Linked DNA regions of Homo sapiens: all the other regions are linked to region 7. A link means that fine-mapping ties the variant in region 7 to the expression of a gene that starts in the linked region. Tissue or cell type: whole blood. Region 7 holds a variant in brackets; each other region holds the start of a gene. Each region is shown on its reference strand, or each on the opposite one.

Evidence for each region. PIP is the estimated chance that this variant, and not a neighbour inherited with it, causes the effect. A credible set is the group of variants that fine-mapping cannot tell apart.
Region 1: DUSP13B starts here. The variant in region 7 is the best candidate, but not a certain one, in a credible set for the expression of DUSP13B in whole blood (TOPMed, PIP 0.53).
Region 2: ARF3 starts here. The variant in region 7 is the best candidate, but not a certain one, in a credible set for the expression of ARF3 in whole blood (TOPMed, PIP 0.53).
Region 3: PBXIP1 starts here. The variant in region 7 is the best candidate, but not a certain one, in a credible set for the expression of PBXIP1 in whole blood (TOPMed, PIP 0.62).
Region 4: CDKN1B starts here. The variant in region 7 is the best candidate, but not a certain one, in a credible set for the expression of CDKN1B in whole blood (TOPMed, PIP 0.56).
Region 5: MAN2A2 starts here. The variant in region 7 is the best candidate, but not a certain one, in a credible set for the expression of MAN2A2 in whole blood (TOPMed, PIP 0.59).
Region 6: POLB starts here. The variant in region 7 is the best candidate, but not a certain one, in a credible set for the expression of POLB in whole blood (TOPMed, PIP 0.55).

Annotation. Positions count from the first base shown.
Region 1 is chr10:75,097,505-75,101,569 of GRCh38, reverse strand. It overlaps DUSP13B (dual specificity phosphatase 13B), which reads left to right and starts at 2,058. Exons shown (of 4, transcript NM_001363514.2): 1 at 2,058-2,539; 2 at 3,685-3,858. The coding sequence starts at 2,133. It also overlaps a transcript of SAMD8 not described here.
Region 2 is chr12:48,955,056-48,959,120 of GRCh38, reverse strand. ARF3 (ARF GTPase 3) reads left to right here and starts at 1,634. Exons shown (of 5, transcript NM_001659.3): 1 at 1,634-1,811. RefSeq lists enhancers at 2,307-2,386, 2,442-3,437.
Region 3 is chr1:154,953,873-154,957,937 of GRCh38, reverse strand. PBXIP1 (PBX homeobox interacting protein 1) reads left to right here and starts at 1,839. Exons shown (of 11, transcript NM_020524.4): 1 at 1,839-1,869. PYGO2 (pygopus family PHD finger 2) reads left to right here. Exons shown (of 3, transcript NM_138300.4): 3 at 1-912.
Region 4 is chr12:12,715,618-12,719,682 of GRCh38, reverse strand. It overlaps CDKN1B (cyclin dependent kinase inhibitor 1B), which reads right to left and starts at 2,315. Exons shown (of 3, transcript NM_004064.5): 1 at 1,369-2,315; 2 at 729-858. The coding sequence starts at 1,843. The coding sequence ends at 737. It also overlaps a transcript of GPR19 not described here. RefSeq lists enhancers at 62-111, 182-261, 2,112-2,211, 2,292-2,341 and silencers at 1,749-1,937, 2,362-2,931.
Region 5 is chr15:90,901,736-90,905,800 of GRCh38, reverse strand. MAN2A2 (mannosidase alpha class 2A member 2) reads right to left here and starts at 2,499. Exons shown (of 23, transcript NM_006122.4): 1 at 2,369-2,499; 2 at 1,462-1,611; 3 at 293-550; 4 at 78-222. The coding sequence starts at 1,593. RefSeq lists enhancers at 1,509-1,568, 3,409-3,458 and silencers at 2,519-2,948, 2,969-3,238.
Region 6 is chr8:42,335,992-42,340,056 of GRCh38, reverse strand. POLB (DNA polymerase beta) reads right to left here and starts at 1,563. Exons shown (of 14, transcript NM_002690.3): 1 at 1,372-1,563; 2 at 988-1,045. The coding sequence starts at 1,432.
Region 7 is chr7:50,251,010-50,255,074 of GRCh38, reverse strand. No RefSeq gene overlaps it. Among named protein-coding and RNA genes, the nearest start is that of IKZF1, 52 kb to the left of the region's middle. The variant T/C (reference allele first, on the strand shown) is at 2,417.

The DNA of each region.
Region 1 (4,065 bases), not on the chromosome of region 7:
ACTGTGAGGATTCAATGAGAAAATGTGAGCACCTAGCTCTGTCTGGCACATAGTACATCCTTGATGAGTGCTAAATATAACAATTATTGCTGGACAGAGAAAGAAATATCAAGAAATACAGAGATAGAGAAGAAATCTCACTGTCCCGTAGGGAAGTTACCCTCCACATAGGATATGGCTGGGGCTGGAAAGGGTAAGAGTAATTATAGTAGTGATAATAATAGTAAGACGTGCCATTTATTGGGCATCTACCATAAGACAGACCCTGTGGGAGGTGCTTTACATTAATTATTACATGGAATTCTCACAGCAGCCCCACTGAAGAAACTGGCTTGGTGAAGACAAGACCACATAGCTGCAAGTACCAGACCTGAGATTTCTACCCAGGTCTGCCCTCCCCAAGACCCTCAGGCTGAGCACAGAGACCCACAGCTGTTCCCCACTGGCAGCCACACGCCACCCTTCTGCAGGCCTTCTCCCCACACTCCTCACTGGTCCTGCCCTGAGATCTCCAGCCCCACATGGCCTGTGGCCACACTTCTGTCTGGCCTCCCTGGAGTGGAGTCAGAAAGGATGGGCAGGAAGAAAGTCCAGGGGACTATCTGAAACTGCAGCTGAGAGGTGGATGGCAAACAGCTGCCCCCTGCCCCAAGGAAGCCTGTGCCTCTGCCCGATGTCTTGGGCACACAGAGCAGCGTCATGGGAGGCTGCAAAGGCACATGAGCTTCCTGGGGGAGGATGGGAGACAGAGGCAAACGGGGGAGTGACCCAGGGAGGAGAGATGCAAACACAGAAAAGAAGTGCATGGACTTGCAAACAGCAGCAGCACAGGAGCAGCCAGGAAAAGCCCTGCCTACAGAGGCAGCTGCTCTGCTGAGCGGGGGAGGCAGGAAGGGGGCGAGGAGGAGCACGGGATCAGGGAGAGAAGGAAGACTGCAGGGAGTGGGAGGGGAGCTCGGCCGGGCCCTGGCCCTGCTGGACGTTGGGCCTGTGCTTCACCCAGCTGGGGACAAGGAGACATGGAATGTAGTGTCAGGCAGGGCCCTCCGAAGACCAAGTCTCAGGTGTCAGAAACCGGCGGAGCTGCCACAACCACCGACTTCCCCTCCTTGGGAGGGACTGGGGCTTAAAGGACGAGTCCCTGGGGGGGTGGCCGGGCCTGACTCTGACTGATGGGATGGGCTGGGTCCCAGTGGGTTAGAGTGGACAGGTGGGGCAACACCCTGAGCATCGGGAGCAAGGCATTAGGTGGAGCCTGACCAGGCATAGCGCTAAGTCCAGGGGAGAGCCCCGTTCTTCAGACCTGGGCCTAGGTCCCCTCGGAGGCAGAGGCATGCACTGTGGCCTACCAGCCCCCAAATCCTTGACCCCTCTGGAGCCTCCTGGGGGTGGAGCCTGGCTGCCTGCTCCCTGGCAAGGCTGGGCTGTGACACACCCATTGGCCACCAGGGGGCAGCCTCACCCCATGCCAAGCTCCGCAGGCCTGAGCCCGGAGCCTGTCCCACTTCCCAAAGCCCCATCTCCTGCCTGGGGTGGTGCAGCCCCACCTGATGGCTCCAGACCAGTGTGGCTGTTGGACTCCTCTGGGTCCTGGGGGCTTCCCCAACTCCACCACACTACACTGCCCTCTGCCCTGCAGTGACCGCATATCCAGACACTCCTCTCTCATTCTCGGGTCAGACCCCCAGAGCATCCTGAAAATTAAGTCCAGCATCCCTAGCATGGGAAGATAAACTGTGGTCCAGATGGGAGCAAAGACTTGCTCGTGGCCACAGAATGAGTTATGGCAGAGTGCTGGGGGAGCCAGGCTCTCCTCCCTGCCTCAGAAGTTCTCTTCCCACCTCTTCAGGTAGACTCCCATCTTCATGGAGGTTTATGGAACCAACGGTCTTCAATCCCAAACAGATACCAAGCAGAGAGGAGGCCTGGGGGTTTAGAGGGACCGGAGGGCCCACTGCAGTCCACAAGGCCTCAGTCGGCTCTCAGGCCCCACCCCCCATGGGCGCCCCAGCCAGCACCTGGAATTCTAGCCGCTTCACAGTGTTTGTGTTCTGGGCAGAACCTGCCCAGCCCTGTTCCGCTCAGGCAGAGTCCTGCCCCTGCACCCACTCCCCCATTCCCGGCCCCAGGCCATGCCCCAGGTAGGTGGCAGGCCACTCAGCCACCTGGAGAGGTCACAGTGGGGGATGAGGAGGACAGCTTGGTCTTCACTTCCGCCTTGCCCGACAGCCTCCCACTGGGTGAGCCTGGCCAAGCCGGCAGCCTCCTGGGTGCCTGTTTCTTTTTCTGGTCCTGGCACTGCCTACCAAAGGGAAAAGATGTTCTTCCCAGTATGCACCTTCCCTAGTCACTGGTCCAGGGGATCAGGGGCAGTTAGCAAAGACAGGACCCCCTCTCCAACACGGCACCAGGCCCATATTCTGGTGCCGCTGAAAATCCAGCTCCGCAGGGTCCCTGACTCCTTCAGCCAGCAGATGCCTGAAACAAGCTACCTGACCCGGGTGGGGCCTGACATCCAGTGCTGGCCTGAGTCGTGGGGGTAAGGAGGAAAACCCAGGGCCTGTAGGCAGGTGTGTGGCTCAGCAGTACCAGGCTCCCTTGAGGAAGCAGATGGGTTAGTGACCACTCTCTGGAGGCCCCAAAGATGGTAACTGAAAGGCTTGGGGATGGACTAAAACCCCAGCCTTGCTACTCATGAGCCGTATGGCTTTGGGCATCACTTTTAAAACATTCTGAGCTTCAGCTTCCTCCTGGGTAAAATAGGAACAGATATCCCACGAGTGAGACATCAGGCTTTTTGTTGTTGTTGAGATGGACTCTCGCTCTGTTGCCCAGGCTGGAGTGCAGTGGTGTGACCTCAGCTCACTGCAACCTCTGCCTCACAGGTTCAAAAGGTTCTCCTGCCTCAGCCTCCCTAGTAGCTGGGACTACAGGAGTGGACCACCACACCTGGCTAATTTTTGTATTTTTGGTAGAGACAGGATTTTGCCTCATTGGCCAGGCTGGTCTCGAACTCCTGACCTCAGTTGATCTGCCTGCCTCAGCCTCCCAAAGTGCTGGGATTACAAGTGTGAGCCACCGTGCCCAGCCAGAGGCATCAGGCTTATAAGAGGCATTAGCTCATTCCATGCGGAGTTGCTAACAAATACCAGTTCACAGTCCTGGCCTCTTACCTGGAGATAGGCTCTGATCTCCAAGCCCCTGAAAGTGGGAGGGGACGGGGGTCTGAGGATGAGTACTGGAAGTAGCAGGTGAGGGGGCTTGAGATGAGCTGCTTAGGTTGGTGGGGGCTTCCTGGGTGCCCTGAGAGCCACAGCCATCTGGGGCTTTCATCCCTACAAAGTCCAAGCTGATTTAGGGATGAGATCTGCACTGACTAGTGCCACAAACAGGGAACTCCAAGGGCCCCTTGGCCAAAGCTTCATACATCTGCAGCTCAGCAGAGGGCAGGAGAGAGGTCTGCCCAGCTCCATAGCAGTGACAAAGGCTTGATTCCCTTGTTCCCTGGGGAAGGGTTCTAGGCCTCAGCCCCAGCTGAGCTTGTTAATACCTCATGTGAAATAGATGAAGCCCTTCCTGCAGCATCCCCGTGGCACCTAGGCACTGCACCATGGGCTTCCCCATCAGCTGGATCCACCCTCTGGGAGCCTGCCTCCAGCCACTGCGGTGTCCACTCTGTTCCAGGATGGACTCACTGCAGAAGCAGGACCTCCGGAGGCCCAAGATCCATGGGGCAGTCCAGGCATCTCCCTACCAGCCGCCCACATTGGCTTCGCTGCAGCGCTTGCTGTGGGTCCGTCAGGCTGCCACACTGAACCATATCGATGAGGTCTGGCCCAGCCTCTTCCTGGGAGATGCGTGAGTAAGACCCACGTTAGGAGTGGGGATGGCGGAAGGGTGTGAGGTTCACACGGGAATGGGGGCATGAGCCTCTCTCAGAGCCCTCTAGGGCAGAGGTGGCACGCTTGCCTCCCACCGTCTCTTTCCCTATGTTTCTTTCCTTTTATATTATTACTGCTTTTAACTGTGGAACTAGAATGCACATAAGAAAAGTGCACAGGGCCG
Region 2 (4,065 bases), not on the chromosome of region 7:
CTTGTCATCCATCTCATCCCTTACCATCTTAAATTAAGGTCCCCTTAGCTTGACATTCTAGGGTCATGTTATCAGGTTAACATAAGAGAGAGAACAGACTGGGTTAAGGGACTGTAAGTGCATACACCAGGGATTGATGAGGACAAGGAGATCGACATATATGGCACCTACCAGCTTTTTTTTTTTTTTTCTTTGAGACAAAGTCTTACTCTGTCGCCCAGGCTGGAGTGCAGTGGTACGATCTTGGCTCACTGCAACTTCCGCCTCCCAGGTTCAAGCGATTCTCTGGCCTCAGTTCAAGTAGCTGGGATTACAGGTATGTGCCACCATGCCCGGCTAATTTTTGTATTTTCTGGTAGAGACAGGGTTTCACCATATTGGCCAGGATGGTCTCAAACTCCTGACCTTAAGTGATCTGCCCACTTCAGCCTGCCAAAGTGCTGGGATTACAAGTGTGAACACAGGGCCTGGCCCCAGCTTAGTTCTTCTTGGAAGCAAGGAAACAAACAAACAAAATCAACCAAGGCAATAAATTCATAAGAGCAACAATTTGGGCTCAAGCCTTAGGGAAGAGCCATGTGTTCATTCCCTTATACTGCTGTAAATGAGGAGAGAGGGCACTTAGAGAACCTTCTATTGGCCGGGCGCGGTGGCTCACGCCTGTAATCCCAGCTACTCAGGAGGCTGAGGCAGGAGAATCGCTTGAACCCGGGAGGCAGAGGTTGCAGTGAGCCAAGATGGTGCCATTGCACTCCAGCCTGGGCGACAGAGTGAGACTCTTGTCTCAAAAAAAAAAAAAAAAAAAGGAACCTTCTGTTCTTAGCATTACTAGTGCCCTTCTATCACAGCTATTTTTGTTTCAAGGCAGTTCTGCATGTCTAGACCAGGTGCAAAACGGAGTGTGAGGGAAGTAGGAGTGGGTAGGAAGCAAGAAATATGGGTGCAAAGTCCTTCACCTTTCCTTGGGATACTAAAATCCCTACTCATCTAGGCACACTTCCTCAAACCACACTTCTGAATATTAGGTTTCCACTCTCCGTCTTTCAAGTTCCAACTTAACTGGCTCAGAGTCCAGCTGTTTTCCTTTAGCCTCTTAAGTTCATCACTCTCCTTCCTCTTCCTTATGGGAAAGGATCTCTTGATTCAGACCCCACAGTAATCTAGTCTCAGGAATAGTGAGCAACAACAATGGTGCGGTGAGGGCTTTCAGGGGATGGCAGCTAGCCCAGATTAAGAAATAAAGATGAAGTCTGGCTGGGTAAGGCATGCCACAGCAACGACTGTTCACCCATATCCCGATGCTGGCTTTGCCCAAGGAGCCCCTGGGCCCCGCAGCCCAGCCCGTCTCCTACGCAGCCAACTTGCCGCCTCAGTCCTTAAATTCCAGGCACAACCCTGGAGCTTGGGATTGTCACCTCAGTCCTCACTGTCTCATCCCCATTCACGGCTCCCGCCTCCGCCGCCCACAGCCCCCACACCTGCCCCCGCCCTGACTCCAGCTCCAGCGCCCGGCCGCCGGTGCTGCAGCCGCTGCCATGGTGATGGGTCTCGCGAGAACTGCCGCTAGCTACCGCGCAGCTATCGCGCGATCGGGGAGGTGGGAAGTATCCCGGGCTGGGGGTGGGGGTACGCCGCACAGCTCCAGTCGCCGTCGCGGCTTCCGGTGCTAGGTGGAGGGAAGGAAGGAGGGAGCCGGGGAGTGGGCCAGGGCAGCAGCCGGGCTGAAGTCGGCTTGGGGAGCCAGAGGGAGCGGAGCGGAACCTGCGGGGCAGAGGCGGCGGCCGCAGCGGCGCAGCTGATAGCAGGAACAGGTGAGAGGCTGGGAAGGGAAGGCGGGTCCCGGTAGAGAAGAGGCTCGGTCAGGGTGAGGGCTGAGGAGATAGAGCGCCTCCCGGGCCCCGCCCGGCACTGCTTGGCGTGGGGCGGTGGGATTCTTCCCACCCGAGAGCTCAGAGAGGGTGCGTCGGGCCAGCTTCACGCCTGCCCCCGCATTTGAAGGACGCAGAGCTGGGGTGGGGGTGGGGGGCGCACACGGATTTGTCCTCCGCCTCGCTCAAGGGGGCGACCTGGGCTGCAGTTAGGTTGTCGCCTGCAGGAGGTGTGCTGTTGAGGGAGAGGAAAACCGTCCGAGGAGAGGTGATGAGGGGGCGGTGATGGCTGTTTGTATCTTTTCTGTTAAAGGGCTAGGGAATGCTGCTTTCTTCTACTCCCTCTCCCTCCCCCACCTTAGCAATAGGAGACGGGAGAGAAGCCTTGCTGTGGTTACACCCCCTCCCCCATCATAGGGCAGGGGTGCGTAGGGGGGTTGGGGGTTAGCCAACAGGGCAGGCTGCTGGGGCACCACATGGGCGCTATTGTGGTAGAGGTTGCGCTTTCGAGTCTAGGGAACCGCAGGTTGGGAAGAGGGCAGCAAGTGGGGAGAGGGTGGAGAGGAGGCAGGAGAAGGAGGAGGGGGATCTGATCTTCCTGGGAGAAGAGAGGTGGGGCCTTCCTCCCCAGGCGGAGCGGGGGCGGTCTCACAGGAGGAGGGAGCATCTTGTCACTGGCCCTCAGTTTGTGTCTTCCAATCCGCTTTCTTTCTTTAGGAAGTACCAGGATTCCCGGAACAGAAAATGGAGCCATTGCTTACGCGAATCGTTTGAGGGAAGGGGCGGGAGTTGGGGAGGTGGAGTTCCCTGTTAAAACGGGCCACTTGATTAGCAAAGTGGTAGCTGTTATTTTGGGGGAATTCCCGTCTTGATTGCATTAAGGCGGGTCTCCATCTTTCCAGGCCAGGAGGAATGTGGTGGTGGAGGTGGAGGATTGTGGTATGTGGTCAGGAGTGAGAAGAAATAGTAAGGCCGTCCCGGTGAGGGAGAAATGTAACCTAAAACCTGTCTCTGCTGTTGTTGGATTGGGTCACCCCTGGTCTATGGCATGAAAGTTTTATTGGGAGGAGATCTGCTGCAAGAGTCTGATTGCTTGGGTCAGTGCAACAGGACAGAATCTAGTCGCTGCATACCTCCTTCCCTGTCCTCAATCAGGTAGGTAGTAACAGTCTTTGCTGCTATTTTGTCTTGGGCTTGTTGTTGGGGTAGGTGTTTCCACTTGCCGTGACTTGGGACATGGGACAGTGTTATGGGACAGTGGATTATCATAGCCCATTGGACTTGAGTTTGAAAAACATGTCTGTAAAAGTTCATTCTAAGAAAGAAACTAATCCATTAAGGTTCAGCTTTTCACCGAATGAATGATTGACCTTGGATTCAGCCAGGAAAGGCTCCCATGTATCACATATTCACATGCGTCCTGTTTCCCAGCATAGAATTATTACCTTGCATAGTTAGAATTTTTATAGTTGTCTATCTTGCTTTTCCAAAGAGACTAGACGCTTTTCGACTGCAGGAACTGGATTTCGTCTCCTCTTCCACAATGCCCATGCAAACAGTAGGTACCCATGATGAATTTAGAATGTAAATAGATAGAACTCAACAAGCTTTCTAACTGTAGTTTAAGGAAAGGGCAAGAGATGGCTTGGCTGTCAGCAGAAGTGCCTGGAAATAGCTTAGCAAGGGTACAAAGACCCTTAGCCTTTGTAATTAAGAAGTTTTTGTGTCTCTGCCTTCCTAAGAGGCACAGAATAGGCATAGATAATGGAAACTTAAGACCCAAAAAGAAAAATATTACTAGAACACAGAGTCATTATCTGCAGTCCCAGATTTCCTGCTTCCCCATTGTGGGCAAAGGGGTCTCTCCATCAGACCTAAGTCTTTCAAAGTGTTATATATGAATTGGGATCCTGGAGAGTTTGGAGGAGGGACCAATATATGTATATGTGTGGTGTCAGGTACAGAATTGGTACCAGTGAATGGTAGCTGCTATTATTATACTGAATGCAAGTATAAAGGAGAGCAGACTGGAAAGAGTGGAAGTGAGTGAAATACTAAGTGCACAAAGAGTCATATTGTAGTGTGTGTTCACCCTACTCTTTTACACTAGAGTCATAATAAGAGGAAGTGGACTCAGGATAGAGGGTGGGATTTATTGGTTAGAAGGAGGAACTTCTTTAAAACCAGGTTGGTTAAA
Region 3 (4,065 bases), not on the chromosome of region 7:
CCAGCCCATCTGTTGCACATTATACTCCGTGTGTTCTTCAACTTTCGGCGCCCTTATTCCCCTGCCTTCCTGGCTTGATTGAAGGAAAGCTTGAAAAGGCGCAGAGCCCTATACCTCATTTCCTCCATGATAAAAGGATCCAAGTGAGGCCCTGTCACAGCCTGTGGGTAGGGGATGCGGCGGGATCCTCATTGCCATGGTACTCAAAGGTAGAAGAGCCTGGAGTTTGTTGCTTCTCTTTGCTATTCTTTCATATCCTCTTGGGCCTGGTGATTAATTAGCAATTCTCATTCCTCTCAGCCAAAGGCCTGCACTGGGCTTTATTTGTCTTTTTTTATTTTTTAAGCACTGCCTGCCAGAGATGGGCCTGGGGCCTGATGAGGACCTTAGCGCTGCTCGTTCTCCTTTTCTGTTCATGCACACATTCCTCCATGGGGTGGGGAAGGCAGGCATGGGGTGTGGCCCTCGGAGAAGTTAGGAGTCCCCCAGCTCAAGATACAGTGGCAAAGACCTAGTGGTCCCCTACCCCCACTTCTCTCAGTTCCTGGCATGAGGAGAGAAGACCCTGCTCTGGTGGAGCTGACAACCTTTGAGGCTGGGAGGAGAGCAGCCTCTGGGCATCGTTCCCAGTGTCCCTCACACTAAAACGGCGTAGATGGCAACCCCCCACCCCCACCCCGCTGCTCAACTCTTGTGTTTGTTGTTCTGTTTGCCCCATTTATCTGTTGCTGTTTTTGTGTTGTCTTCCCCTGCTCCGCATTTTGTAAAATGGCCCCTGGGGGAGTGTTTTTGCTGGATCTGCTCCCTCTCGCTCTCTCACTCCACTACTTTTTGGAACAAAGTGATGGCAGAATGCGGTGGTGGTGGGGGTCTTTTGTACTGTTGGATTAATAAAATGATTTTAAAATCCCAGACAAGGACTCCTTGCTGTTGCTGTGTGAAAAGGCTGGAATGAGCCGCTGTCACTGCTGGGTAGGGTGCTTAGGGGTTGAGGATATGTATGCTCCCCAGGGTCCCTGGGAGTGGGAATGGCAGATTTGGCCCCTGAGCTGACCCTGGTATAAGCTGCTGAGCCAAGGGAGGCCTGTGTTTCCCCGCCCATCCCCCTGTGTCTCCACTGTGAGAAACTGAGTTTCCTTTTTGAGCATATTCCTGGGCCAGGCCTGGAGCCAGGCGGATTTGGCACCACAGCCTCTGGAAGACAAGTGCTTGAGCTCTTCTGGGTTTAGCACCCCACCCACCTCCCAGTTGTTTGGGTTAGGGAGCAAGTGTCGCTCTAAGGGTGAGGGGAGGGGCTGCTTCTGTCCTAGCAAATTTCATTTTGGGATGTTTTTCAGATCGTTCCCGTCCCCCAACCGTTTTTTAAAGTAGCAATGGCATCTTTTAAGCAGTCTGTTTTGGAGCAGATTGGGGAGAATGGCAGGAGGGCTATTTCCACACCCTGGATTTGCGACCTGTCCCTCTCCCTTCCCCCATCTCACAGCTGTCTCTGTCTATCCTGGGGCCAACCTGGCCCCTTGTCTTCGTCATCTCAGAAGACGGCACCGTCTGCTTTTCTCTCAGTTTGTGGGGGTTCCCTCTAGAAACTGTTTAGACACTGGGAAAGAAGGGCAGGAAACTCAGGATTCGGTTAGCTGGGACCCCGGTCGCCCACCAGGAGGTAAGCCCAGGTTTAGGGCCGTGTCGCTAGACCTCCCTTCCCCTCCCCTGGCTCTCAATTCCTGCTCTTATTGGCCAAAAGTTTCCGCCCCCTTGGGGAAGTTGACTTTTCATTGGTCAGTTTCTGGTCACATGATTTTCTTCTCGGGCTGCAAACAAAGGGAAGCCTGCAACAAGTTAAGCTGAAGACCGAAGCAAGAGCTGGTTCAGGTAATGCCTTAGCTGGGAAGGGGTCCACAGATTCGCTTTGAAGGGGGTGGAATAAGGAAAAGGGAAGGCGGAACTAATCTAGAAGGAATGAGCTGCTTTTCATTTCTGGGCTGGGGGAGGAAGGCCAGGTGCCGACGCTAACACAACAGGAACTTGCTCTGGGTACCCCAGGCAAGTGGCCCTAGATCCTTTGCTTTAGCGGTTTGGAGGAGCAACTGTTAGAGGAGTTTAAATTAACTAGAGGCGAGACTTCCTAGCTTTATGCTGAGTGGGAGAGCTCCCCCTTTAGCTGTTTTTTAGAAATAGCAGAAGTCTCTGTCATAATCCTTACAGGAGGTGTTTGTTGAATCCTGCCTGAATGAAAAGAAGGGGGTGGAGGGAGGGAGTGGAGGTGGGTTTTCTTCCAGAAGGTCGATGAAAAGAAAAAGATCTGGAAACACAGCAGGGAAGGGTGGAGATTAGACAGCAGAAGGAACTTCCTAATAAGGCAGTGAGATGCTGGCTTGGGAGAAGAGGTGTTTTTTTGAACCCTGGGTTAACCTAACCAAGAAAGAGGTATCAGGGTTTGGAACCCAGAGTATAGGAGTTTCAGAGTGTCTCCTATTTGGGTCTCATAAGTATTTGTTTTGTTGACCCAAATACCTTTGCTGGTTTCCATGGAGACAGTGGGTCTGACATCACTGTGGTTGCCATGGTGCCTGGTTCTAGAGGACCTGAGCAGGCTGCACACACAGCTAGGGATAAACAGGGACTTCAGCCCAAGCTGCTGCCACTTCCTTCCTGCCACCACCTGTTAACAGTCAGCAACTGGGGATGGGGAGATGATAACAAGGGCGGGGGTGGAGCCACAAGCGGAAGGCTGAACAGCCATGGCTCTATGGATACTTACAGATGCATGCCAGGGTGTCCTGTTGGATTTGGTACAGGGAGGTCATTGCAGCCATTCTCCTGTCTCCGTGTGGAATGGGTGCATGTGTCTGGGAGGATGGGCATTGGGAAAGACCTATCCAGGACTTGGATCTTGACTGGCAGGAGCCACAGGAGGTTACTTAGGGCACCACGCAGGACTTGAAAACAGCTCAAACAGAAGGGGATAATGTGGTTGGTTTCAAAGGTAGAACTGCCATACTCTCCCAGCCTCACTTCCCTTTTCCTGAGTTTTCTTATAAAGTGCTCGGGAAGCAGTCATTTATCCTGTTCTGAGGGATCACAATCCAGTACTCTTGAGAGGTCAGCTCATCTATCCTTCCACCTTTATGCCTGGTCCCAACAGGAGCTGCCTGAGGGAACTGTTTTAGCCTTGGATGAAGGGGCGGATCCCTCTCTTCTTACCCTGCTTTGTGTCAGTCAGGCTTTGGAAACTGGAGTGATTCCCTCCCCTATCCCTGTCAAGTCAGAGCAGATTAACCGGGTGCAGGACCATAGCCCTGATTTTTGTCTATTTTTTGCAAGCTATAAAGTGATGTATATATACATGATAGTTGCCATAAATCCATTTTCCCAGTCACCTTCAAGTTCCCTAAGACCAAACTCTGGCGATTACTAAGAAGGTAAACAGAATTTAGGATGAAGACTGAGAGTGATGAGGAGACTTATAAAAGGTGCATCCAGGTGGATCTAAGCTATGCCAGTGGCTCTTAACCCTGGCTGCGCATGAGAATCATTTGAGTGGTTTTTTAAAAGACCCACAGCCGGGCCTACCCCCCAACTCAATTGAATCAAAATCTTAGGTGATTCCAATGTGCAGCCAAGATTGAGAACCACTGAACTAGACCATACCAAGGACTTATGCTGGGCAAGTGGTGGGACACTTAGGGCTGAAGGAGGCCATTGAGTCTTCCCTTCCAGGTCCTGGGGGAGAAGGTAGTGATTGTGTAGGTACCTGGTGTTGTGAAGGGAGGGCTGTGTTGTTTCCCTGCTCTTCTTATTAACAAGTCTTCTTATTGGCAAGTTGAGTCTGTCAACCTTGCTGGGCTTCATCTTCCCTGACTCAAATGTCAGGGGGCTGGACTGGAATTCCCCAGAGCCTTTCCAGCCTATGCTACTTTGACCTTTCAAGGTCAGTTCAGTTTTCCAAGGCCCTGTTGGTCCCTGGAAGAGGCTGGCTTCTCTGTGGGTGTTGGCAGATTCTGATTTGCAAGGCAAATACTGCTTAGAAGAGCTGGGGTGTCAGGGAGAGAAGGACTGGAACCAGGC
Region 4 (4,065 bases), not on the chromosome of region 7:
AGCATACACTGGCTGACGTGTTCCTGGATTGCTTACTGACAAGAGTTAATTTAACTTCTGCTTTGCAACTTCAGTGTTACCAGAAATTCTGTAGAAACTTTAGTAACTTTTTTATCTTTCCATTTGGTTTTTGCAAATACTGGTTCCTTCTCTCTCCAAACTTAGGAGACAACAGGGAAAGTGACAGTTTATTAAAATGTCAAAGAACACAACATACCATCCTATTCACATCTCTAATCCCTTGCATAACCAAAGATGAGCAATTTCTACCAAACATTCCCCCTCAAAATTGAAACTTAATCATGTATTTGCCATTTTTCCATGTATGGCTCAAAATCTGTTACCGACTCAAGCTGAACCTCTAGGAAATTAATTCTCATTAATTCGGACTGAGGGAGTACCCTAGTTCTTGTTCGGATGGGCAAAGAACCTATTGCTCCCAACACGTTTTAGTGGGACTCACAGGGAAACGACCTTCCTACCCGATGGGGCCTGGGTTACAAGTAGCTGCTCTGGTCAACAGTTTGAAGAGAAAGTATCTCTGGGCATAGAAACTCTGAGGAATTACCGTATCCCCAGCCTTCCCCATTGCTACTTTTTTGACCTCACGAAGTATAAACAAAACAAAACCCCATAAGCTTTTAATTTGCCAGCAACCAGTAAGATCAGGTATCGTGAGGTCTGAAGGCCCCGGGTTCCAGTGCGTGCTCCTTTAGTGATCAACCCACCGAGCTGTTTACGTTTGACGTCTTCTGAGGCCAGGCTTCTTGGGCGTCTGCTCCACAGAACCGGCATTTGGGGAACCGTCTGAAACATTTTCTTCTGTTCTGTTGGCTCTTTTGTTTTGAGTAGAAGAATCTAAGCGCAGGGGAAATTTTTAAAAAGAACACACAATCTTTATTAGAAAAAACAATGGCTGGCAGAAGTTGGCCCCATAGTCAGGGGATGAAAAACCCACTACCTCCACCCACAATCCTGGATCCGTCATCCCCAGTGGCTTTTAAGGGCACAAAATGAGGTTGTTTTCAAAAAACAGAAAGTGCATTCTCCGCCCCAGAGCTCTTTCCCTAGCCAGGAGGCGGACCGTTGATAAACATCCCAACTTTGTCACATACCTAGGAGTTGCTAGTGAGAGGGACCGCGATGTATTAAGTTAGGGAAATTATCGGATCTTACCATCTCCAGTTTCTGACTTAAAAGTCACAAACAGACAAGCAGTGGGCCAGGTAGCACTGAACACCTAAGACCAATAAAGTTAGCTCTCCCAAAGCTAAATCAGAATACGCCGAAAAGCAAGCTAAGGTTAACACCCTCCAGCAGGCAAAGCGGGGCCCCAAACACATTCTATGGTTGGGAAAGGGTCATTACCGTCGGTTGCAGGTCGCTTCCTTATTCCTGCGCATTGCTCCGCTAACCCCGTCTGGCTGTCCGACGGATCAGTCTTTGGGTCCACCAAATGCGTGTCCTCAGAGTTAGCCGGAGCCCCAATTAAAGGCGCCGCCGGGCGGCTCCCGCTGACATCCTGGCTCTCCTGCGCCGGCACCTTGCAGGCACCTTTGGGGGGCCGCGGGGGTCTGTAGTAGAACTCGGGCAAGCTGCCCTTCTCCACCTCTTGCCACTCGTACTTGCCCTCTAGGGGTTTGTGATTCTGAAAATCGAAATTCCACTTGCGCTGGCTCGCCTCTTCCATGTCTCTGCAGTGCTTCTCCAAGTCCCGGGTTAACTCTTCGTGGTCCACCGGGCCGAAGAGGTTCCTGCAGGCCGAGGGCTTGGGGTGCTCCGCCTGCCTGGCGTCCATCCGCTCCAGGCTAGGGCTCCCGTTAGACACTCGCACGTTTGACATCTTTCTCCCGGGTCTGCACGACCGCCTCTCTCGCACTCTCAAAAAAACAAAACCGAACAAAACAAAGCGCCCCTACGCAGCCCGAACCCCTCTCGGAAGCCCAGCGACTGCCCTCGGAGCCAAAAGACACAGACCCCGACGAGCCACGGCCCGAGCTCTAGGAGCGCGCAGGGGCTGCGGGGAAGCCCCGGCCCGGCCGCCGAGTCTCCGCTGATCAAATGGACTGGCGAGCGGGAGGGCGGAGAGGAGAGGGGACCAGGCAAGCGGAGAGGGTGGCAAAGCCCGTCCGAGTCTGGGCGGGTGCAAGCCCGCGGGTCCCGCGAACCCAGCCGCTCTCCAAACCTTGCCGGCGTCGGAGTCGCAGAGCCGTGAGCAAGCGGGGACAGGGGAGGGGGAGAAAAACACCCCGAAAAGACGAGCCCCCTTTTTTTAGTGGCCCAATATGGCGGTGGAAGGGAGGCTGACGAAGAAGAAAATGATTGACACGGCGAGTCTATTTAAACAGAGGAGGAGATCCATTGGTTGCGGCGGCGGGAGCCGCCCCGCCGAGGCTGGCGAGCGCGGCCTTAAGGTGGCCCCGGCGCGGTTCCGCCACCTCCCCTCGTTCCCGAGCGCGCCGCCTCCCCGAGCGCCGCCGGGAGATTGGCTGGTCGCGTGACTGCTGGAGGGGTACTGCTGCCAACAAACCTGCTCTGGCTGGCCTCGGAGAAATTAAAATTAAGACAAACAAACTAGCCAAACGGCCGGGAACCTGGGGCGGGGCCTGAGGTTCGGGGCCCGGCGCTGCGTTGGCGGGTTCGCCGCGGCGCCTAAGCCCCGACCTCCCTCCCGCTCCTCGCCCGGGAAGCCGGGACCTGGACCAGAGGACCGCGAAGGTCGCCGGCAGCTCGCTAGGAGCCGGGGTGGCGAGCTGCCCCCAGCTCGGCCCTCCCCAGCGGCCCCCACCTCGTGGTCTGCGGGGGAGGCCGCGGAGCGTTTGCTGGGGGGGCTGGGCGCCCCCCCGCCGGCGTGCCTTTGCTGGGGGCTGGTGGAGGCAGTGGGCAATGGTTCGCTCAGCCTTAACCCAGAAGTTTCTGCCATCCCTGGGGAGGCTGGGGGCCTAGGGAAGAAGCCAAAGCGAACGTCTTTCTTTTAGAAATTAGCCAGGAGTAGACGCGGCACTTATCATGAACTCAAGCTCTCCCTCAATGAAAATAAGAAAGGAACTCAAGATTAAAAAAAAAAAACAAAAAACTCTAGTCTCTCAAGTCCCTTAATAAACTTTGTAGCTGTCTCAGACACGTTTAGTTTTGAAAAACGAGGGTACACCCCTGGCCCAGGATCTTCCTTCCCAAGCACAGTTAAGGCCATGGACATTGGCTGCGTGTGGGAACTCGTCCCTTTCTACTTTTCTGTTCTTTCCCGGGATTGTAGCAGTTTCCTCTACCTGAGTCCAGCCGCCAAATACAACAGCTCCTTCCTTCCTCCACCCTTCTCTCTCACCAGATTTCACTGCTCCAACAAACTCAGAACAATATTCAGATGCTAGTGAATGCTTTCAGAGGGCTGAAGGGTGAAAATACTCCCCTCGGGGTCAAACTCCAGATGATGAAATGATTTTTAAAACACCACAACCATGTCCTAACGTCCGATACTAGTATTCCAGCGTTTCTCTTCTCCCTTTTGCAGCTGGAAATTTCTCTCTCAGTGTGGGCTTGAGCACCGTGGTGGAAGGTAAAGTAGGACGATGAGCAGGGCTGCCCTGAGACAAAGCTCAGTGGATCTTCAACTGCCTCCCCACCCCCATGCCCGGTACCCATCATCTTGGTTTGAGCCAAAGTTAATGCATTTTACTGGAAACCAACCTTCCGTTCTAATATTACACAGCAGCAAAGTTTTCTTAAGCACCTATGCTACAGATGAGCTTGATGTGTAGCTTGTTTTCTTAGCCACATCTTGTCCACTTTGTGTGCCTACCTCATCTCATACGCTCCAGAATGTGACAGCTGGAAGGGACCCTCGGGACCCTGTGGTTTAACCCTCTCCTTTTTACCACGGAGGAAATCGAGACTCAGAGAGGTTTCCTGTCCAGGGACATGCATTCGGTTGGTACCGGAGTCAGGACTAGATGCAAGTCTCCTAACACTCAGGTTGGTTCATTTTCTGTTCCTTTCCTTCCTAATGGTTCTCACTGGTTCAGGGTTTTGTCTGAGTTTGATTGTGCTGTAGTCTGCAGGTCCTGC
Region 5 (4,065 bases), not on the chromosome of region 7:
TCGACGTCCCTCCCTTGTATTGGCCATCAGAAATCCCACTCCACACTCCAGCTCCCAGGAGTCTGCAGGGCCCTCACCTGGGTCATTGTGAGAGTGGGGCACCACAAACACCTGCAGGTCTTCAGCATCCCAGTCGTGCGGGTCGTAGGAGATGTCGAAGCCTTGCCTCCACACACCACCATCCACGTTGTCAAACGGCAGCTCCTCCGACACAGTGAGCATCTGCCAGGTGAACTGCAGCTCAGTACCCCAGTCGTGGCCACTGTACGTCCCTGCCAGCTCTGACTCTTACCTGCAGCTCTGGCTTCTGACCCCGGCCCCCCAAAGCAAACTGGCAGTCCTGCGGGGAGATGGAGAAGAAGCTGGGCCGGGGCTCCGGTGGCACCACCCAGGAGCCATTGACCGTGTAGTAGGGCAGCATGGCGGGCGGGCCCTCTGCGTTGGCTGTCAGCTCCAGCACGGAGTCCTTGATATGGCTGATAATCTCATGGTTCTCCTCCAAAAGCTGCTCCAGCTGCTCAATGCGGTTCTGCAGCACAGAAATTTGGCTCTGCCAAAAAACCAGAAAGCAATCACACACAGCTCCTTATGCCACAGGGAGGGTCTCTGCTTGGGGTCTACCAGCTGAGGCCTGAGTACAATTCTTCCCTCATCAGTCAAAGCCAGACCATGAGCCTAGAGGGATAGATGACACCGTTCAGATAAAGGGAGCTGTGCAGATCACCACTGAGGACTACACTCCACTTGGGTTGGGAGAACCATCACTCTCTAGCTCAGGGATGGCAAAGATTTCCTTTCACCTACCTATTCTCAACAATCGGTGTTGCCTGTGCTGAGGATTTCAGCGGGGCTTAATGGCAAAGAATGCTGCAATCAATTAGCAATGTCTGCCAAGAATTCAGGAGGGGCTGGGCGCGGTGGCCCACACCTGTAATCCCAGCACTTTGGGAGGCCAAGGTGGGTGGATCACCTGAGGTCAGGAGTTCAAGACCAGCCTGGCCAACATGGCGATACCTCGTCTCGTCTCTACTAAAAATACAAAAATTAGTCGGGCATGGTGGCAGGCTCCTGTAGTCCCAGCTACTTGGGAGGCTGAGGCAGGAGAATTGCTTGAACCTGGGAGGCGGAGGTTGCAGTGAGCCAAGATCGCGCCACTGCACTCAAGGCTGGGCGACAGAGCGAGACTCTGTCTCAAAAAAAAAAAAAAGAAAGAAAAGAATTCAGGAGAACAGAGTGACAATACTCATTGCCATTGACATTTTTTCTTCCTTCCTTCTTTTCGCCATCACTGTTTTTAGCTGAGGGTTTCTACAAAACCTGACTATTGGGAAGGAAGGCTCCTGTCCTGTACTGACATTACCCTCCAGCGGGGGGTGGGAGGGGAGGCGGCGGGGTGGGAGGTGCATACCCTGAGCCCAGGTGACTTGTATACAAAGAAATTAGCAACCAGGCACGACTCACCCGGGGGAAGTTCCCACCATTCTGGTGTCGGGTGGGATCGTGTTGCACTCGGTCCAGCATGAGGTAGAGCGAGAAGACTGCCACACAGAAGATGGCAGCCCCACACACTGTCACCTGCTTTTTCAGCTTCATACTGGCCTCCACACACACCTGGCAGGAAGGACACCATCTGTAGCTCCAACATGCAAAATGCCCGTGGCAGTCTTTCCACCAAATACCCCAGTGAGTTCCTGAGGGCTGTTCCAAAGGAACACCCATTTGCCTGGCTCCAAGTAGCACAAGCAGCACATCTGAGGCTGGCCCACCTGGTCCTGGTAGCAGCTCTGCCGCTAGGGTGGAGAGGACGCTCTCCTTTGGCTGGTGCTATGAAAAACGGGCCCAGGATAAGAGTCCCAGCTCCGACTGGAGCGCACCACACAAGCTCCTGATTACACAGCTTCCCTGCCTAGATAGGAGGTGCCTGTTCAGGCTCCTCGGCCATGTGCTTCTAGTTTCAGGTGAATAAGCTAGTCTCTATTTTGTTTGATTTAAAAGTTTAGCCAGAACCCAAAGAGACTGATAGGAAAGCCTTTCTCAGTGCCCTTTCGGGTCAAACTGGCACTCACCAGAAACAGTGCCTGGCACGATCCTTTCTCAGAAACACAGAATGAGTTTCTTTCTAATAAAGAAGAAAGATGCTTGTGTTTCTAGCATAAAGCAAGCCCTGTGTGTTCTCCCTGTTTCTCTACTGTTCACTGCAGTGGGAAACTTCCAGCCGCGGTTTGCAGAGCACTTAGGGGACCCCTAGGAAGCCTGCAGTGACGCCGAAGGCCCCCTGGGAAGGGAGAGACGGGGCCCAGTGCTCAGCTGCGAGGCAACTTCAGGGGACCCGTGCCCCCCGCCGCCACCGCCCTCGGGCTCCGCTTGCCTGCTCAGGAGGAAGGAGGACGCTAACTGCGGAGCCGAGCGTGGGCGGGACCGCGCTCCGGAGTCTGCTCCGCGGGCCCTGGGGCCGAGGAGCTTTGTCGCCTCTGCGTTGTGCCCTACTTAGCGCGATCTGATTCTGCTCGGGAGCTTCCGGGCAATATTTTCAGCCCTTAGAGACTGGGTCTAGGCCAATGTGGGTGGAGCTGGGGAGAGAGTTGGATCACAGAGGGCAGGCACCTGCCGCCAGGTCTCTGGCCGCCCGCCCGGCTCCCTCCCCACCCGCTCCGACTTCGTCGGCCCCGGGGACCGCAGAGACAGGCGCCAGGTACGGGCCTCAGGCAGCCTCCTGTCCCTTCCTGGCCCCTCTGACGCCGCAGTGGCGCTCGCACTCCCGCCGCCCGAGCCCGGCCTCTGTCGGGGCAGCCGGAGCCCTCCCGCGCGCGCACCCGGCCCGTTACCGTCAGCGCCCGGCCTCCGCGCCGCTCCGGGCCCAGTCGGCCGAGCTGCCGGCTCTCACACGCCCGGGGACGGCGGCCCGCGTGCAGGCAGCGACGCAGGCGAAGGCGGGCGCCCGCCCACCCGTAGCCCCCTGCTCCGCGCGCCGCTGCCGCGCTCCCGCTGGGCCCCGGGCCGCCGGCGCGCTCCGCTGCGCCGGCCCCGCGCGGGTCCGCCAGCCTCTGAAGCTGCCGGGCCCAGCAGCGTGCGGGGCGGGGACAGCCGCGCCGCCCGCCCCGGCCTGCGTGTGCCCGGCGGAGCTGACAGGAGCTCTGGCCGCCGCGGTCCCCGCCCGGCTCCTCCCGGGCCCGCTCCGCTGGGCTGCAGTGCGCAGCCGCACCAGCCCGGGCCGGGCCTGGCCAGCTGCGGAACCTCAGGAGGGACGCGCGACTGAATTTTTTCGGAATCCTACTTGAGTAAGCGCATGATCGGGCAGTGGTCGAAACGCCCGCCTCCGTCTCGGCAGACGCGTAGCGGGGTGCGTTCTCCGCGGCCTCACCCGGCTCCGGCCCAGGTAGCCTTAGGTCTCTGTCGTTGCGCCCCTCGGGCAAAGGGGTGCTGCCTCCTGTCGGTACAGCGCATTCCTCGAGTCCCTTTCCTTTCCGTGCCTGCTCTATGTTTCCTGCCAGCGAGTGAACAAGACACAGACTTTTCTTGGCTGTTTCCCTTTTACTGGGCATCTAGGTTGTTTACAGTTTTTCAGTGTAATCCATACTGCAATGAACATCTCCATGAATTCCACATTTTTGTTCTTTTTAAGTTATATATAACATTATCTGAATGTGACCCCCCAAATTCATGTTCAAATCCTAATCCCTCAAGGTGATGATGGTATTAGGAGATGGGCCTTTGGGGGTGAACAGAGTTTGAAGGGAGAGCTCTCATGAATGGGATTAGTGCCGGTATCAAATGACCCCGAGAGTCGGCCCCTTCAACCACGTGAGAACACAGCTAGAAGGCACTATCTGTGCACCACAGGCAGGCCCTCACCCGACACTGAATCCGCTTATGCCTTATCATGGACTTTCCAGCCTCCAGAACTGTGAGAAAATACATTTCTGTTGTTGATAAACTACCTACTTTATGGTATTTTGTCCTAACAGCCCGAACAGATTAAGACGTTATTTTATGATGAATTTGCAACAGTGAAGTTACCCGGGCAAAAGATAAGGACAGAGATGACTGATGACACTATCGCTCCCC
Region 6 (4,065 bases), not on the chromosome of region 7:
GGCAAGGACTGGGACTTCTTGAGTAAATGATTAGGTATTAAGAAGTCCAGGCAAGGAATGAAGATTTTTCAAGAAGATTCACCATAAAGTGAGAAAAGAGGGAAGGTGCTAGCTAGAGGGAAGTTAAGATTGTTTTGGTTTTGCTTTTAAGAGCTGAGGGACTTGCACATATTTATAGGCTAAGGAGAGCTGACACCGAGGCTGATGCCTGGAATCCCAGCACTCTGGGAGACCAAGGTGTGTGGACCATTTGAGTTTAGGAGTTGGAGATCAGCCTGGGCAACATAGCAAAACCCGGTCTCTACAAAAAAAAAAAGAAAAAAAAAGAAAGAAAAAAAAATTAGCTGGGTGTGGTGGCGTGCGCCTGTAGTAGTCCCAGCCACTCAGGAGGCTGAGATGGGAAGATCACTTGAGGCTGGAAGGTTGAAGCTGCAATGAGCCATGATCATACCACAGCGAGACCCCGTCTCAAATAAAAATAAATAAATAAATAAATATAGGCTAAGGAGTAGAAGCAGGTGGATGTGGAAAGAATGAATAGGATAAGGCCCCTGGTGAGATGAACAAGGACAGGATCCCATGAACAAGGAACAAGGATCAGGATCAGGATCCCACAGGATCAACTTTAGACCAACCAAAAGAAAAAATGTGATTCCTTGAACCACATATATTTCACAGTATGGACTTCATCCGCTGTCTTTCATTACGGTTAAAATTACACCGCATTTCTAGTAATTCATGTTTGATGATGACAAAATACGTATCAGGCTACAGCTATCTGCAATCAGAATTGGGAACTTATCTGAACTGATCCTATAACGCACTGCCCACATTCTTCAAGAAATAGTAAGGTACCAGCCTCGATTCTTGCTTTTTCCCGCTCTTGCAGATGGACCAAATATCCACTGGGCCCTCAGTCCTGTTAATTGCCACACTAAACAGGGTATCCCAGAACGTATGCTACCCGAGAATGCTGCACTGTCCCACCTGTAAGCATTGTACTTGTGGATAGCTTGGCTCACGTTCTTCTCAAAGTTTGCGAGTTCTGAAAGGCAACAGAAGGCTCGGGTGAACAAGAACCACGAGTAAACAAACGAGAACTGTTTTCTGGAAGGGGATATGGCAGCCTCTAAGAGACAGTGACCACCCGTTTCCTCCAAGGGCCAGACCAAAAGCAGCCCAAGCGATGGCCCAGGTGTAGCCGGCAGGACTGACAACCAGCCAGGGGCGCCGGAGGGAGATCCCCACGGAAGACGACCCGCTGCAAGGAACCTACCCTACCCACTGGACTGTCGGTGTGGGAGAGAAGGAAGGCAGGGGAAGAGGCTGGAAGGAAAGAAGAAAGCCAGCGGGGCCCGGCCCGGTGCTAACCTGTGAGCATGTCGGTGATTCCCCCGTTGAGAGTCTCCTGCGGCGCCTTCCGTTTGCTCATGGCGGCCTGCACCCGAGAACCCCAGAGTGTTCAGAACCAGGGACTAGAGCCCTCTCCCAGCTTGAAGGAGGTACCAGGACTTGGAGACGGGAGCAGGAGCAACCCAGCTCCGGCGCGACCGGCGGAACAATGGTTGCCCCCGATGGGGGGCGGGGCGCACGGCGCTTGTTGTGACGTCACGCGTCCTGGGCGGGGCGGGGCGGGGCTAGAGGGGCGAGCCCTCGGCAGGTGAGGAGAGAGAACTCGGAGGGTTCGTGGACTCGTGGACGTGGACACGGCGCGGGGGAAATAGGCACCTCAGAATGACAGCCCAGGGGCCTTCCTATGGGAAGACCTGGAGTTTTGACCTAAGATATTAAATCTGTTTTCTCAGTGTTTATCTGGAATCCTTTCCCTAGAAGGGGAAACGGGAGTGCGATCTTGATTCTGAAATACTTGCGCTGGTGGGGTAGCTTCCTGCACAAAAATGTGCACTGTAATAGCTACCCAATGCATGGCGCGTTTTGTACGTGGTTAGAGGCGACACTGGCGTCACACTGTCAAAACTTTCTCTAAGGATACCGGGCAGTCCACACTCCAGTGCAGCCCCTTACGTACTAGGGCGCTGCCGGAGCCCGGCGTGAACCATGCCGAGAACAGGAATCCTCCCGCACACGTGTTAGTACACCTGCCAACCAGTGTCAAAAGATATTTTATTTTTAATCCCCCTGCCTTTGCGGTAGGGACCAAATTAATGAAGAGACCACAAGAAAGGGAGAAGTGTTTCATCTAGATCATGAGCAATGGAACCCTAATTATAACATGATGACCTACATCTGAGAAATTTACAGTCTGCTTGAGAAATGGAAATGTCACATCAGCAATAGTTTATTTTACAAGCGTAACTCCTGGGTTCATATCGAACTGCAATTCCAGGCAATTGCTTTGTGCATCGAAAAATTAAAATTTATTACAAAATGATACGTAGTTGCTGTAGAGAAATCTGGAAAAATGTATAAAAGGAGAAAATTAAAATCAGTGATCTCACCCTACAGCTGAACTATTAATATTTTGGGACGTACACTTCTAGTCTTCTAACCCAGTCTATTAAAAATTCCCATTATTTTCCAATAAATATCATTAGTTTCTTTGATTAGCAAGGTTGTGGTGATTGTGTTTCCTTACAATATCAGTGTATATCTTAAGTTATGCTTATTGGAAATCTGTAATTCTTCTTTTTTTGAATTTCCTATTCATATCATTTACCATTTTCCTAATGGGGGTAGTTTGTTACTAATCTGGTAGATCTTTTCTATATATTACTACTTGCCCTTTTATGGATAGCTTTTGTAAAAATTTTGTACATATTTGTATTTTCCTCAATTTATTACTTGAGGAATAAAAGTTAAAAAAACTTTATGCCTGCAACTTAACTATCTGATTAGTTAAGCTGCAGTGAGCAGTGACCACTCTCATTTACTCTTTATACTCTCATTTACATATATGACTTGTCCTAGTTTTCCCTGTTCACACTTTTTTCTGTCCAATCTCTATTCCAGGTGATATTCAGATTATTTTGCTCTGAAGAATTATTCCTCCTTAAATAAAAATGTATTTACCTCTGAATTTTAAAAGTTACAAATGTAGGGAATTGTGGGATCAGTTTTACAAATTTTTTTGTTTTGAGACAGAGTTTCACTCTTGTCCCGCAGGCCAGAGTGCAATGGCACGATCTCGGCTCACTGCAACCTCTGCCTCCCGGGTTCAAGTGATTCTCCTGCCTCAGCCTCCCGAGTAGCTGGGATTACAGGATCCTGCCACCATGCCCAGCTAATTTTTGTATTTTTAGTAGAGATGGGGTTTCACCATGTTGGCCAGGCTGGTCTCAAACCCCTGACCTCAAGTGATCCACCCGCCTTGGCCTATTAAAGTGCTAGATTACAGGCGTGAGCCACTGCACCTAGCCCATTTTTACAAATACTATATTTTTAAAATTAGTGCCAGAGAAACCAAGGAAAATAATCCATTATCTGTCCTTATCGTCTTAGAACAACCGACATTTGATCTGCTTCACAAAGTTCTTCTTGAAATAACTTGCTTCAATTGGCTTCTAAGATTCCACATGCTCTGGGCTTCCTTTTTCCTCACTGGCCAGTCCTCAGCAGGGTGTGTGTGTGCGCACATGTGCGCCTGAGCACTGGTTCCCAGCTCCTCCTCCACTCTCCAGCCTTTATGGGAAATGGCTTCACACTTCAGTCTTCTAACCAGCTTTTCCAACTTGTCCAGTTTTACCTGTTTAAATGGCATGTCTAGCTTGAAAGTCTCCTAAACTCATAGTTCAAGTCTTGACCTCTCCCTTGAGTTCCAGTCTCATACATCAGGCTGTCTACTGGATAGCTCTAGTCCATAATAGGCATCTCAAAGATAAAATGTCCTAAAGAACTCCTGACTCTTGCCCCACCAGCTTCTCCTTAACTTTCCCCCATCTCAGTTAATAGCATTTTAATCCACCCTGCTATCAGGCCAAACCCATAAGAGTCATTTTTAATTGCTCTTTTCACACCCCACATCCCGTCTGCCAGCAGACCTTGTCTGTTCTGTCTCAGGAATATGTGCTGAACTGGATGACCTCTCATCCCGAGCTGCCACTGCCC
Region 7 (4,065 bases):
AACCCCTAATCAAAATATTAACAAAATCCAGTAATATAATAAACAGCAATACAGACAACTAAAATGGGATTACTCCAAAAAGTCAAATTTTGCTTAATATTGGAACATTAACCAATGTAATTTTCCACATTTACAGATTAAGGAGAAACATCTTATGATTATCTCCATAAATGAAGAAAAAGCATGAGATACAATTGAATACCGATTCATGATAAAAATTCTTAGGAAACTAGGAATCTTTTTTTTTTTTTTTTTTTGAGATGGAGTCTCGCTCTCGCCCAGGCCGGAGTGCAGTGGCACTATCTCGGCTCACTGCAAGCTCCGCCTCCCAGGTTCAGGCCATTCTCTTGCCTCAGCCTCCCTAGTAGATGGGACTACAGGTGCCCGCCACCACGCCTGGCTAATTTTTTGTATTTTTAGTAGAGATGGGGTTTCACCGTGTTAGCCAGGATGGTCTCGATCTCCTGACCTCGTGATCTGCCCGTCTTGGCCTCCGAAAGTGCTGGGATTACAGGCGTGAGCCACCGCGCCCGGCCAGGAATCCTTTCTTGATCTTATAAAGAAAATTCACAAATACAAAACAGAAGGAAAAGAAAATAAACAAAATCCTATGGCAGCTTCCGCTATGGCTGTGTTAGCTCCTGCTGGACCAAACCTCCCAGAGACCAGCTAAAAACCCTGGACAAAACACAAAAATATAACCTGAAGGCACCGGGGTGAATGAACATAGGCAGATGCCACAGTGGAGTTGATACTCGGAAGAAGACACAATATAGGGTAAGTGTTGTCCTTTTTCTTGGTAGGCTTTTAGCTTGCAACAAGACCTGGATGTGTGCCATGCAGCCTGATGTGAGGTGTCTGGGCCAACTGGGATTAAAGAGGCATCAGTGCAGGAGAGGGAGATTGGTTATGGCCAAGGAGATTAATCAAATAAATATTAAGAATAATGAGAGCTAGTTTCTTATTGTTGGAGAAGGATGTTAGAAATATAAAGGAACCAAACTAAAACTATGGTTCTGAATTGAAATCGAAGCTATCTGTAGATTTGTCCATATTATCACCTATGTGTAGGTATTTATACAATGATATGCCCTAGCTCTGTCTCCAAGAAATAGTAGAAACAGCAACATTCAATAGCAATGAGTACACCTAGATCCAGCTCTTGGTTTTGCAATACCATTTCCACCAAATGGGAACCATGGATCTTTGGAATAATGGTTGATTTCAAAGCTAGAACAGAGAAAATATGACATGAGCTTGGAATAGTTTGCTGTGATAAAGTAAGAAAGTTGTTAAGGTTTGAAAAGGAACACATTAAAAGGACACAGAAGAAAACTTGAAGAGGGTCCCACTGTTCAAATCTAGAAGAATTTAAACATTAAAATACATCAGTATAGTAATGGATTGTAATCCACTGAATTTAATAGGGAACCAATAGTTCATAGTGATATAGACAATAAATAAGTGAACAAATTATAACTTTAATGAGGCATGGGATATTTGCATAGTCTCTCAAAGCAGCTACCCATAAAACCCTCAATTAAAAAGGAAAAAAACAATTTTACAGTGAAGAAACATGACACTTACCACTTTAAGCAATCAAAGTCAACATCACTAGTAATGAAACAAATCGAAACTGTGTTTCACTTGATAGGACACAGCAAGACAAATCACAGCACAGCAAATCATGAGGAGACACCAGGCAAATCCAAATTGGGAGAAATTCCTAAAACACCTGGCCTGTATTCTTCAAACCTGTCAAGAACATGAAAGTCAAGGAGATACTGAGTAACTTTTTCAGGTTGAAGAAGACTAAAGAGAAATTATAACTAAAAGCAATGCATGTTTCTAAACTTGATCCCTTTGCTATAAAGGATATTTTGGACCAAATGACGATACTTGAATTGGGTTTGTGGATTGAATGGCAGTCATATAACAATTTTAGTTTTGTATTTTGATAGACTTATGGAATATGTTTTTGGGTAATTTATTTGTTTTTAGAAAATGTACTCTAGTTTGGGATAGATTGAGCATTATGTCCACAACCTGCCATCAATGATTTGAAGGTACAAACTTTTTAGTAGTGTTCTTGAAACTTATCTCTAAATTTGAGATTGTTTCCAGAAAACATTACTGTAAAAAGAAAGAATATGATCAATTTGGAAAAGTGCACATGGGTCTATATGTTTGTAATGTAAGATACATGAAGAAATAAATATAAGGTACATATTAGGTTTTGAAAAAATAGTGGGAGGTAAAGCTAGAGCTGTATTACAAAGAACCAAATGATTCTTATGTTTGACATTTTAGGATTTTATGGAAAGGAATGTCATGATCTTTCCATAAAGGATGGCATTTTAGAAAACAGCATTCCTGTAGCTTAACAGAAGATAGAAGGAAGAGGGTGGAGACACTT[T/C]AAACAGACAGAGTGACTATTTACAAAGCAAGTTAGAGGCAGACCGGGACTCAGGAAGAGATGCTTCAGATTTTGTGTCCATTGCATACATATTACAATTACAAGCCAGCAAGAACGGTTGGAGGGAATGGGTTAATTCTAAACCAAATTGTAATGGGACAAGGAACAACTGGGAGATAAAGAGTGGCAGATTTGGCAATCATGTATCATAATAGACACCTTGGATTTTTAGTTTTTTAATATACCCAGATCATTCCTAAATCATTCAGAGAAGCACAGCTCTATTGCCAAACATGCAAGGCTGTCCTACTGCCTCAGGCCGGCATGTCACCAGGCAGGCAGAACTGAAGCTGAGAGCCTATGGTTGGGACATTCTGACAAGAGTTGGGGAAAGAATGTTTCAGGTATCTGGTGGTACTTGTGACATTTGTGGGAGGTCTTGGGACCATACCAGCGAGGGCTCAGGATGGCAGATGTTTAATGCCACTCCATAGAGGCAGGTTCTGGAGAGGAGAGATGTGCATCGGAGTCTAGGGAACAGAGCTGAGGTTGGATGTCAACAGCAAACCATTGGGAGGGTCTTAGCAGACAAAGAAGGGAGAGCACATGAGGGCCAGTGACAGTGCAGTCAGAGGTGAGATGATATGCAAGCTGGTCCAATGGACACACCCCCCAACCTGTTATGTGGCTGCCCCTCCTGCTCTCTGTGGCGTCCTGAGCTAATCAGGCAGGAATGGAGACAGGCTGAGCAGAAACAGAGCTTCTCTGTTCCAAGAATGTCCTGGGCCTTTCAGAGGCATTATTGTGCTTAATACTTGCACTAGCCCACCAGGTGGTTATTTAGACTTCATTTATACATAGTAAACCTGAGGCTAGGCGCAGAAGCACAGTACTTAATTCAGTGGGAATCCAATGCTGTCTGACTCCAAAGCCCTAGAACTTGCTTCTGCAGCCCTGGCACTTGGCTCAGATCTACTTACAAGCAAGAAAGCTTGTAGAGTGATGCCCAGGACAATGGCAGAATATGTTCCTTCCATAAAGCTGTCAGAATTATAAAATTCAAGATGATGGAGAATCTTCGTATTTTTACCAGTAATCAATGGTGTATCCTAGAATTTTAGAATTCCAGGACTGGCTGAACTTAGTTGCCAATTTATCATTTTTATTTTTAACTGGTTTGCAAATTGTAGCACACGTAATTGAGGCAACTTCACAATGAGGACATTGGATATTAAAGCTCATGGAGGATCTATTAACTTTTTTTTATTATACTTTAAGTTTTAGGGTACATGTGCACAAGCTGAATGAAATGAAGTTTTAGTTACTTCCTATCAATGCTGTTCTCTCTCCTTCATGAATCTATTGCTTCACAGAAAATGTCTTAAAAGACAGAAAACAAAACAACAATAACGAAAAAACACAACCCCTGTCATCTGTTTTAAAACAGTTCTTATAATAATGATAGTTTACAAACTTGTGTGACTTTCAGATCATAATAAAGCATAATAAGTACTGACTATGCTTGTAATAGTTTAACAATTTAAAAATCATTTTAGTGACTATTTTATCATCATCTAAAATATAATCTCTCACTATGGCTACAAAAATAGATGGCAGCTGGTTTGCACATTACTATGATTTTGTGATAT